Linked DNA regions of Homo sapiens: region 1 is linked to region 2. The links come from fine-mapping of genetic effects on gene expression. A gene starts in region 2. The other region holds a variant in brackets. All regions are shown on one strand. Distances are between the middles of the regions.

What was found. PIP is the estimated chance that this variant, and not a neighbour inherited with it, causes the effect. A credible set is the group of variants that fine-mapping cannot tell apart.
Region 1: its variant is the best candidate, but not a certain one, in a credible set for the expression of NBDY in whole blood (TOPMed, PIP 0.60).

Annotation. Positions count from the first base shown.
Region 1 is chrX:56,328,496-56,333,875 of GRCh38, forward strand. No RefSeq gene overlaps it. Among named protein-coding and RNA genes, the nearest start is that of KLF8, 99 kb to the left of the region's middle. The variant T/C (reference allele first, on the strand shown) is at 3,203.
Region 2 is chrX:56,727,135-56,732,514 of GRCh38, forward strand. It overlaps NBDY (negative regulator of P-body association), which reads left to right and starts at 2,109. Exons shown (of 3, transcript NM_001348129.2): 1 at 2,109-2,455; 2 at 4,929-5,065. The coding sequence starts at 2,220. The coding sequence ends at 2,426. RefSeq lists an enhancer at 2,150-2,229.

The sequences.
Region 1 (5,380 bases), 400 kb before region 2:
GTCTATTAGGTCTGCTTGGATCAGAGCTGAGTTTAATTCCTGCATATCATTGTTAAGTTTCTGTCTCGTTGATCTGTTTAATGTTGACAGTGGGGTGTTAAAGTCTCCCATTATTATTGTCTGGGAGTCTAAGTCTCTTTGTACGTTACTCAGGACTTGCTTTATGAATCTGGGTGCTCCTGTATTGGGTGCATATATATTTAGGATAGTTAGCTCTTCTTCTTGAATTGATCCCTTTACCATTATGTCATGACCTTCTTTTTCTTTTTTGGTCTTTCTAGGTTTAAAGTCTGTTTTATCAGAGACTAGGATTGCAACCCCTGCCTTTTTCCGTTTTCCATTTGCTTGGTAGATCTTCCTCCATCCCTTTATTTTGAGCCTATGTGTGTCTCTGCACGTGAGATGGGTCTCCTGAATACAGCACACTGATGGGTCTTGACTCTTTATCCAATTTGCCAGTCTGTGTCTTTTAATTGGAGCATTTATTCCATTTACATTTAAAGTTAATATTATTATGTGTGTATTTGATCCTGTCATTATGATGTTAGCTGGTTATTTTGCTCGTTAGTTGACGCAGTTTCTTCCTAGCCTCGATGGTCTTTACAATTTGGCATGATTTTGTGCTGGCTGGTACCGGTTGTTCCTTTCCATGTTCAGTGCTTCCTTCAGGAGCTCTTTTAGGGCAGGCCTGGTGGTGACAAAATCTCTCAGCATTTGCTTGTTCGTAAAGGATTTTATTTCTCCTTCACTTCTAAAGCTTAGTTTGGCTGGATATGAAATTCTGGGTTGAAAATTCTTTTCTTTAAGAATGTTGAATATTGGCCCCCACTCTCTTCTGGCTTGTAGAGTTTCTGCCAAGAGATCCGCTGTTAGTCTGATGGGCTTCCTTTTGTGGGTAACCCGACCTTTCTCTCTGGCTGCCCTTAACATTTTTTCCTTCATTTCAACTTTGGTGAATCTGACAATTATGTGTCTTGCAGTTGCTCTTCTGGAGGAATATCTTTGTGGCATTCTCTGTATTTCCTGAATCTGAATGTTGGCCTGCCTTGCTAGATTGGGGAAGTTCTCCTGAATAATATTATGCAGAGTGTTTTCCAACTTGGTTCCATTCTCCCTGTCACTTTCAGATACACCAATCAGATCTAGATTTGGTCTTTTCACATAGTCCCATATTTCTTGGAGGCTTTGTTCATTTATTTTTATTCTTTTTTCTCTGAACTTCCCTTCTTGCTTTAGTTCATTCATTTCATCTTCCATCACTGATACCCTTTCTTCCGGTTGATTGTGTCAGCTCCTGAGGATTCTGCATTCTTCACTTAGTTCTCGAGCCTTGGCTTTCAGCTCCATCAGCGACTTTAAGTGCTTCTCTGTATTGGTTATTCTAGTTATACATTCATCTAAATTTTTTTCAAAGTTTTCAACTTCTTTGCCTTTGGTTTGAATTTCCTCCCGTAGCTCAGAGTAGTTTGGTCGTCTGAAGCCTTCTTCTCTCATCTCATCAAAGTCATTCTCCATCCAGCTTTGTTCCATTGCTGATGAGGAGCTACGTTCCTTTGGAGGAGGAAAGGTGCTCTGCTTTTTAGAGTTTCCAGTTTTTCTGCTGTGTTTTTTCCCCATCTTTGTGGTTTTATCTACTTTTGGTCTTTGATGATGGTGATGTACAGATGGATTTTTGGTGTGGATGTCCTTTCTGTTTGTTAGTTTTCCTTCTTACAGTCAAGACCCTCAGCTTCAGGTCTGTTGGAGTTTGCTAGTGGTCCACTCCACACTCTGTTTGCCTGGGTACCAGCAGCAGTGGCTGCAGAACAGCAGATTTTTGTGAACCACAAATGATTCTTTCTGATCATTCCTCTGGAAGTTTTGTCTCAGAGGAGTACCTGGCCGTGTGAGGTGTCAGTCTGCCCCTACTGGGGGGTGCCTCCCAGTTAGGCTGCTCAGGGGTCAGGGGTCAGGGACCCACTTGAGGAGGCAGTCTGCCCGTTCTCAGATCTCCAGCTGCATGCTGGGAGAACCACTGCTCCCTTCAAAGCTGTCAGAGAGGGACATTTAAATCTGCAGATGTTATTGCTGTCTTTTTGTTTGTCTGTGCCCTGCCCCCACAGGTGGCACCTACAGAAGCAGGTAGGCCTCCTTGAGCTGTGGTGGGCTCCACCCAGTTTGACCTTCCTGGCTGCTTTGTTTACCTAAGTAAGCCTGGATAATGGCAGTCGCCCCTCCCCCAGCCTCGCTGCCTCCGTGCAGTTTGATCTCAGACTGCTGTGCTAGCAATCAGTGGGACTCCGTGGGTGTAGGACCCTCCGAGCCATGTGTGGGATATAATCTCCTGGTGTGCGGTTTTTTAAGCCCATCAGAAAAGCACAGTATTGGGGTGGGAGTGACCTGATTTTCCAGGTGCCATCTGTCACCCCTTTCTTTGACTAGGAAAGGGAACTCCCTGACCCCTTGTGCTTCCCGAGTGAGGCAATGCCTCCCCCTGCTTCAGCTCGCACATGCTGCACTGCACCCACTGTCCTGCGCCCACTGTCTGGCACTCCCTAGTGAGATGAACCCGGTACCTCAGATGGAAATGCAGAAATCACCCATCTTCTGTGTCGCACACTCTGGGAGCTTTAGACCGGAGCTGTTCCTATTCAGCCATCTTGGCTCGCTTAATTCTTTTTCTCAGCAAGGAACATCCCTGAGACAGAGAATGTGTCCCTGAGGGTAGGCCTCTAACATGGCCACTTTGAGGGGTGGCCATCTTTTATGGTCAAAACTGTAGCAATGAAATAATCCCCAGTCTCCCATAGTGCTTCCAGTCTTATTAGGATGAGGAAATTCCCACCTAATAAATTTTGGTCGTACTGGTTGTCTGCTCTCAAACCCTGATAAGATGTTATCAATGACAATTCATGCCCGAAAGTTCATTAGCAATTTTAATTTCACCCTGGTCCTTTGGTTCTGTGATCTCTCTCTGCCTCCATTTGCCTTGTGATATTCTATTACCTTGTGAAGCATGTGATCTCTGTGACCCACACCCTATTCATACTCTCCCTCCCATTTTGAAAATCACTAATAAAAACTTGCTGGTTTTGTGGCTCAGGGGGCATCACAGAACCTGCCGACCTGTGATGTCTCCCCCAGACACCCAGCTTTAAAATTTCTCTTTTTTGTACTCTGACCCTTTATTTCGTGGGTGAATTTCATCCAATATCTGGCTGAA[T/C]TTCCCCTGATAAAGCCTCACTACATACTCCACTAACAGCCACAGCCTGAGGGCTGTGGAACTCTGAGGAACTCACAAGACAACACTGACACTGATTATAGCTGAAGAAATTATATGAAGACTCTACTACTGTGTTCATCCAGAATCAAAGCCTAAGTGCCTTATCCAACCAACACTATAGATACATTGATATGGTTTGTATAATTGTCCCCTCCAAATTTCTTGGAAATATTTTTAAGCTCCTTGTAGACTCTGGATATTAGAGCTTTGTCATATGGGTAGATTGCAAAAGTGTTCTCCCATTCTGTAGGTTATCTGTTCATCTGATGATAGCTTATCTTGCTGTGCAGAAGCTCTTTAGTTTCATTGGATCCCGTTCTTCAATTTTTACTTTTGTTGCAATTGCTTTCAGCATTTTCATCATGAAATCTTTGCCTGTGCTGATGTCCTGAATGGTATTACCTAGATTTTCTTCTAGGGTTTTTATAGTTTCAGGTTTTACATGTAAGTCTTCAATCAATCTTGAGTTAATTTTAGTATAATGTTTAAGGAGGAGTCCAGTTTTTAATTTTCTGCATATGGCTAGCAAGTTTCCCCAGAGCCACTTATTAAATAGGTAGTCCTTTCCCCATTGCTTGTTTTTGTCAGGTTTGTCAAAGATCACTTCGTTGTAGGTGTGTGGCCTTATTTCTGAGTTCTCTATTATGTTCCATTAGTCTGTGTCTGTTTTCGTACCAGTACCATGGTATTTTGGTTACTGTAGCCTTGTAGTATAGTTTGAAGTTGGGTAGCATAATGCCTCCAGCTTTGTCCTTTTTGCTTAGGATTGTCTTGGCTATATGGGCTTTTTTGGTTCCATATGAATTTTAAAATAATTTTTTTCTAATTCTGTGAAAAATGTTAATGGGACTTTAGTGGAAATAGCATTGAATCTATGAATTACTTTGCACAGTATGGCCATTTTTATGGTATTGATTCTTTCTATCCAAGAGCATGGAATGTTTTTCCATTTGTTTGTGACCTCTCTGATTTCCTTGAGCAGTGGTTTGTAGTTGTCTTTAAGAGATCCTTCACTTCTCTTGTAAGCCGTATTCCTAGGTATTTTATTCTCTTCGTAGCAATTATGAATGAGAATTCATTCATGATTTGGCTTTCTGCTTGCCTGTTGTTGGTGTACAGAGATGCTCGCAATTTTTGAACATTGATTTTGTACCCTGAGACATTACTGAAGTTGCTTATCAGGCTAAGAAGCTTTTGGGCTGAGATGATGTGGTTTTCTAGATATAGAATCATGTCATCTGCAAACAAAGACAATTTGGCTTCTTCTCTGACTATTTGAATACCCTTTATTTATTACTCTTGCCTGATTGCTCTGGCCAGAACTTCCAATAACATGTTGAATAAGAGTGGTGAGAGACAGCATGCTTGTCTCGTGCCAGTATTCAAGGAGAATGCTTCCAGGTTTTGCCCATTTAGTGTGATATTGGCTATAGGTTTGTCATATACGGCTCTTTTATTTTGCAGTATGATCCTTAGATACATAGTTTATTGAGACCTTTTAACATAAAGGGATGTTAAATTTTATCAAAGGCCTTTTCTGCATCTATTGAGATAATCATGTGGTTTTTGTATTTAGTTCTGTTTATTTGATGAATTACATTTATTGATTTGTGTATATTGAACCAACCTTGCATCCCGGGGATGAAGCCAATTTGTTCGTGGTGGATATGCTTTTTGATTTGTTGATGGATTCAGTTTGCTAGTATTTCATTGACGATTTTTGCATTGATGTTCATTAGGGATGTTGGCCTGAAGTGTTTTTATTTTTATTTTTATTTTTATCTCTGCCAGGTTTTGGTGTAAGAATGATGCTGGCCTCATAAAATGAGTTAGGGAGGAGTCCCTCCATATCAATTGTTTAGAATACTTTCAGTAGAAATCATACCAACTCTTCTTTCTACCTCTGGTAGAGTTCAGCTTTAAATCTACCTGGTCCTAGGTTTTTATTGTTTTGTTTTGTTTGTTCAGTAGAAATTGTACCAGCTCTTCTTCCTAACTCTGGTAAAATTGAACTGTAAATTCGTCTGGTCCTGGGCTTTTTAAATTTTTGGGGGGTTTGTAGGCTATTTATTAATGCTGGAACTTCATAACTCACTATTGGTCTATTCAGGGATTCAA
Region 2 (5,380 bases):
ATAAATAAATAAATCTAATTGTGGTATAAATAGTCAATGTTGATAGAAGCAACTCTAAGTTGGGACTGTTTTCACCTCAAGTCAAATGTTTACCGTAAATTAAACCTAGCTGGAGTTGATAAAATTTTTAATTCCTGTTACTTTACTAACGAGGCACATATTTCTCTTAATTTGCTAAAACTATAGCTATAGAACGACTTAACTGCAACTCTTAATGTCTTTAGTCGTGAAGATTTAGAGACCTATGTAAAAAGACTGTGAAATTGTTACTTCATTTACTTGAATAAATAATAAAATATTCTTCAGTTTCTAAAAATAAAGACTCCAAAGTTTGACTTGTATATCTGAGTGGAAGGCATAACATTTCACTGAGATGAAAGAAAAAAAAAACTAGGAAAGGAGCAAATTTGGTGGATTAAGGATAGACCAATGGTTCTCAACTGGGGACAATTGTGTACCCGAGGGGACATCTGGCAATGTTTGGAAATCTTTTTGGTTATCACAACTTGAGGAGTAGGGAGTAGTACTGGCATATAGTTGGTAGAGGCTTAGCTTAGGACATTGCTAAACGGTAAACTCTGGCAACCACTACAAAGATTGATTTGGCCTCAAATGTCAATAGCACCAAGATTGAGAAACTCTGGGTTAGAATCTTCTTCGCTGACTTTGACCACTCTTTCTCAGCCTTTGCAGCAGACTTCTTTTCTTCTATCTGTCTCTAATTACTCAATATTCTGTTTTTAGCTCAATTATTTTTCCTTTAGATTTTCTCTTGGGGATATAATCCATTCCCTTGTCTTTAACTATCACCTCTATGTTGCTGTCTCCCACATCAGTATGTCTAGTTCCAACTACTCTTCTAGCTCTAAAATATTGCCTCTCTCAATGCCTCCCTCACATCTTTTCATTAAGCTACAGCTACATCTGACTTTTCTGTCTTTATTAGTAGCATTTGGCACAAAACCACGGGGTCATTTATTTCCCAAATATTTACTGAGTACCTAATTTGTGTAAAGGGCTGTGCTGGTTACTTGGAGGAAGGTAGAAGGGTGGAGATAAGAGATAGTTATAGTAGTAAATGCTTTACATGTATTATCCCTGGTTATGGAAACACCTTTGCAAGGAAAAAATTATGGCCTAGAAACCAAAGTTCCAAGAATTTAAATAATTACTCAAAGAGCTCAGAGCTTGTAAACAGCAGAGTTTAACAGGCACTTCTACTCTGGCATTAAGGACTAAGCTCTCTCCATTTAAAAAAACAAAAAACAAACAAAAAGCACTGAGAACAAAGCTGAAGAAGTGTGATCTAGTTTGTCCATAGCTAAAGGGAGATGGATGTGTAGGCTATTTTAATAATGAAGGTCTAAGAAGTTCCAGAAGCCTTTTCTTCTGAGACACGTGGTACTTTCTTCTGGTTACCATAAATCATAGAATATAACATATCATCACTAGTAAGATGGGTCATTATTTTCCATACCTACAAGAAAGAAAAAAAAAAGCTGCCAACTAAAGTATAGTGTACCATCAATTGTTAGGTCGCAGAGATTTCCTAGATATTCAAATTTGGGGAAAAACATAATAAGCCTTCAAAAATTACAAATTTGCTTAAAAAATAAAGAAAAAATGATCTTAGATTCTATGACATACGGTGAATTCATTTTCCACATTCAATTTCCATGGTTTGTGCTAGTGTGCTATTCTGCACTCTAGTCAACTTACATGTTTGCATATTGCTTTTTAAATGTTTGTAGCTAGTTTCACAGCTCTGTGATGTGCATCTGCAGCTGGCTTGTAAAGCTCTTCAATAATTTATTTGGTTACCGCCCACCCCCGCGTCCCTCCCACACATATAAGCCATTCAGAGTTTACCACTTAAAGGTAAACTTGAATTTCTTCTCATCTTAAAATTGCATAAATTATATTAAATTCTCAATAAATTTATTTACATTTAGTGGGGGTGGGGCGCGATGGAAAAACACTATATTAAATAACGACATCGGTTTTTAACACCCATCCTAATAGAAACATTAAAATAGAATGGGGTAGGGAGGAGGGGTGGAGGCGGAGAAGGGATGTACGTCTCAGGATACAGGAAATACGGTAAGAGCGAAACAGGAGGAAGCCAGCTCTGTGCCTGGAGGGGACTCGCCGCCATCTCAGGTCTCTTGGCTTTGCCAGGGCCCACCGGAGAAAACTGACGACCCGTTTCTGTAATCCTTATGGGAGACCAACCTTGTGCCTCCGGGAGATCCACTCTCCCACCTGGAAACGCACGGGAAGCCAAGCCTCCAAAAAAGCGCTGCCTCCTCGCTCCGCGTTGGGATTATCCGGAAGGAACTCCCAACGGAGGTAGTACCACTCTACCCTCCGCACCTCCTCCTGCATCAGCCGGCCTGAAGTCGCACCCTCCTCCTCCGGAGAAGTAGAGAAATAAATTTCTCCCACCCTAAACCAGGTCAGATTCTTTCTCATCTAGGACATCTAGGCTCTTTGAAACTTATTTATGCATTCTCACAAATTTCCTTCCCCTTTTCCCTGTTCTTTCCATGATTTCAAAATAGAAAAAATAACATGCAGGGATTAAGCAGCTCTTTCACAAAATATGCTTGAATGAAATGATGGATATTTAACGACATTAAATAATTATTTGTAATATTTTAGATGAAATAATTGTAGTTATATTTTCTAAGAAATAGACTTGAATCTTTTGATTTGCTTGAAAGTAAGTCATTGGTGCCAAGGTGGAGGGAAAGTGTAATAAAAATGCTCATGAGTTGATAATTTAAAGCTGGGTGATGTATATGTAGGGATTTATTATATTATTCTCTCTACTTTTGCGTGCATTGGAAAATTTTTTTGTTAAAAAAAAAAAGGCTGGTTCAAGGCCAATAAAAAGCATCTGTTGAAGGCCAGCCTTCAGAAGTGTATGTCTTTCTCTGTGTAAGGCAGGAGAGTTGAATTTTTTTTTTTAAAGCTACAATGTGATAGTCAAATCCAAGTGCCATAATGTTTGCTTGTTCAAGGTATTCAGGAAGGGTGGAGGATGGACCAAGTCACTGCCTGGTAGTAATCATGAGCCATCAAAAAGGAGGAGTAGGGGGGCGGACGCGGTGGCTCACGCCTATTATCCTAGCACTTTGGGATGCCGAGGTGAGCAGATCAGGTCAGGAGTTCGAGACCAGCGTGGCCAACACGGTGAAACCCCGTCTCTACTAAAGTTACAAAAATTAGCCAGGCGTGATGGTGGACGCCTGTAATCTCAGCAACTCGGGAGGCTAAGGCAGGACAATCATTTGAACCTGGAAGGCAGAGGTTGCAGTGAGCCGAGATCGCGCCATTGCTCTCCAGCCTGGGCGACAATAGCAAAAAACTACGTCTCAAAAAAAAAAAAAAAAAAAAAAAAAAAAAAAAAGGAAGGAGGAACTTTGGGTGGGCCTTAAAGGTTGAGTGACATCTGCCATGTGGAGGGGCAGGGAATGCTTTTCAGGCCGAGGGTTTCCAGAGAAAAGGCAGAATTCTTCTGGAAACAGCTTGGCTATAATTTTGAATCTACAAGAAGGACTAGGAGGTGAAGATAAAGTGCTTCAGGGCCTTAAATGTTATGCTGAGCATATACTTCATTCCAATATCCATCAAGTGCTACTATTTGTATTTTAAGATTCCTATTCTTACTATCAGAAAAGGAATCTCTGATATTTAGATGAACTTTATAGAATGCAAATTATAAAACTGAATCTGACCCAAGTTTTATAGATCCTTTTAATTCAAAGGAGAGAAGCATCTTTTCTTCATTCGTGCAGTAAACCTTTATGAAGCCCTTGCAATGGGTAGGAATTATTCTGAGAGCTGTAGGGGATGGATGGCCAAGGCATAGTGCCTAGTACATAATAGGAGTGAAACAGATATTTCAATAAATAAATCAATGAATGATGGGACAACTTTGGCGACCAAAAAAGTTTTAGACATTGGGTTTGGTGGTAATGCATAGAAAAAAAAAAATAGAAATCTATTTTACTTGAAAGCATCTCCCTGTCATTCCATACAGTTTTACTTCTCACATGTTTACCTCTATTCAAAGGGGTAGTGGAGTGGAAGGTTGCAGGGAGTAGGGAGAAAATTGCTCAGATAGAAAACAAAAGAGCAGCCGGGCGCAGTGGCTCACGCCTGTAATCCCAGCACTTTGTGCCGCTGAGGTGGGCAGATCACCTAAGGTCAGGAGTTCGAGACCAGCCTGGCCAATATGGCGAAACCCCATCTCTACTAAAAGTAAAAAAAAAAAAAAAAAAAATAGCCGGTCATGGTGTTGTGTGCCTATAATCCCAGCTACTCGGGACGCTGAATTAGGAGAATCGCTTGAATCCAGGAGGCAGAGATTGCAGTGAGCCGAGATCATGCCACTGCACTCCAGCCTGGGCGACAGACCGGGACTCGGTGTAAAAAATAAATAAATAAATAATTTTAAAAAATAAAAAGGAAAAAGAAAAGAAAACAAAAGAACAAAACAATAAGTGCAGTAGCTACATAATTTCCCCTCCAAGTGATTCAAATCACTGATAATTGTAATAATAGCCAATATTTACTGAAGATTTATGTGCCAATTTTCTAAAGGGCTTTGCATGTTATAATTTATTTAATCACAACTCTACTAGAGAAGTTTGTATAGACCAAGGGAAGTTGTATGACTTGCCACAAGTTACACAGCAAGAAGTAGCTGAGCTGAGCTTTGAACCCAGAACACCTGATTCCAGAGTTTATGCTCTAAACTTCTATATAATACATCCCTTCTAATACTATGTATACAACTGTTTTATAGGAATAAATCATTGAAATAGAGGTATGGGAAGGATAATGATTTGAGGAGACCAAGGGACAAAGAGATGGACAAAAACAGAAAAAATGATGCCACAATATTTTTTACTATTTTTCAGTCTTTGAGTGATTGCAGTATGACTCCATTTCCCTGGTGCATTCATATAATAGTTCACCTGGTGAAAACAATGAAGATTATTTACAATGCTACCCTGCTTTTTCTGGTGTCCTGAACCTGGAAGTTGTGCTTTTTAAGGTAATCTCTTTACCAAAAATTATTAAGAGGAGGAAGAGAAAAAAAAGAGTTGGTTTTGACACATTAAAAAGTAGCCAAACAAAACTCAAAAAGATAGCAGCAAATGATAAAATTGAAACTATATTCTACATTATATGAAAACATATTCATAATAATAGTGTAATCTGAAGAAATGTTTTGTTAGATTCACTTGTACTTATAGTTTCTATTATTACTGTGAAATATATCATCTTTTTAACTACATTTTCTAATTGTTTCTAGTAAATGGGAACATGATTGATATTTTTGTATATTTATTTTATATGCTGGAGCCTT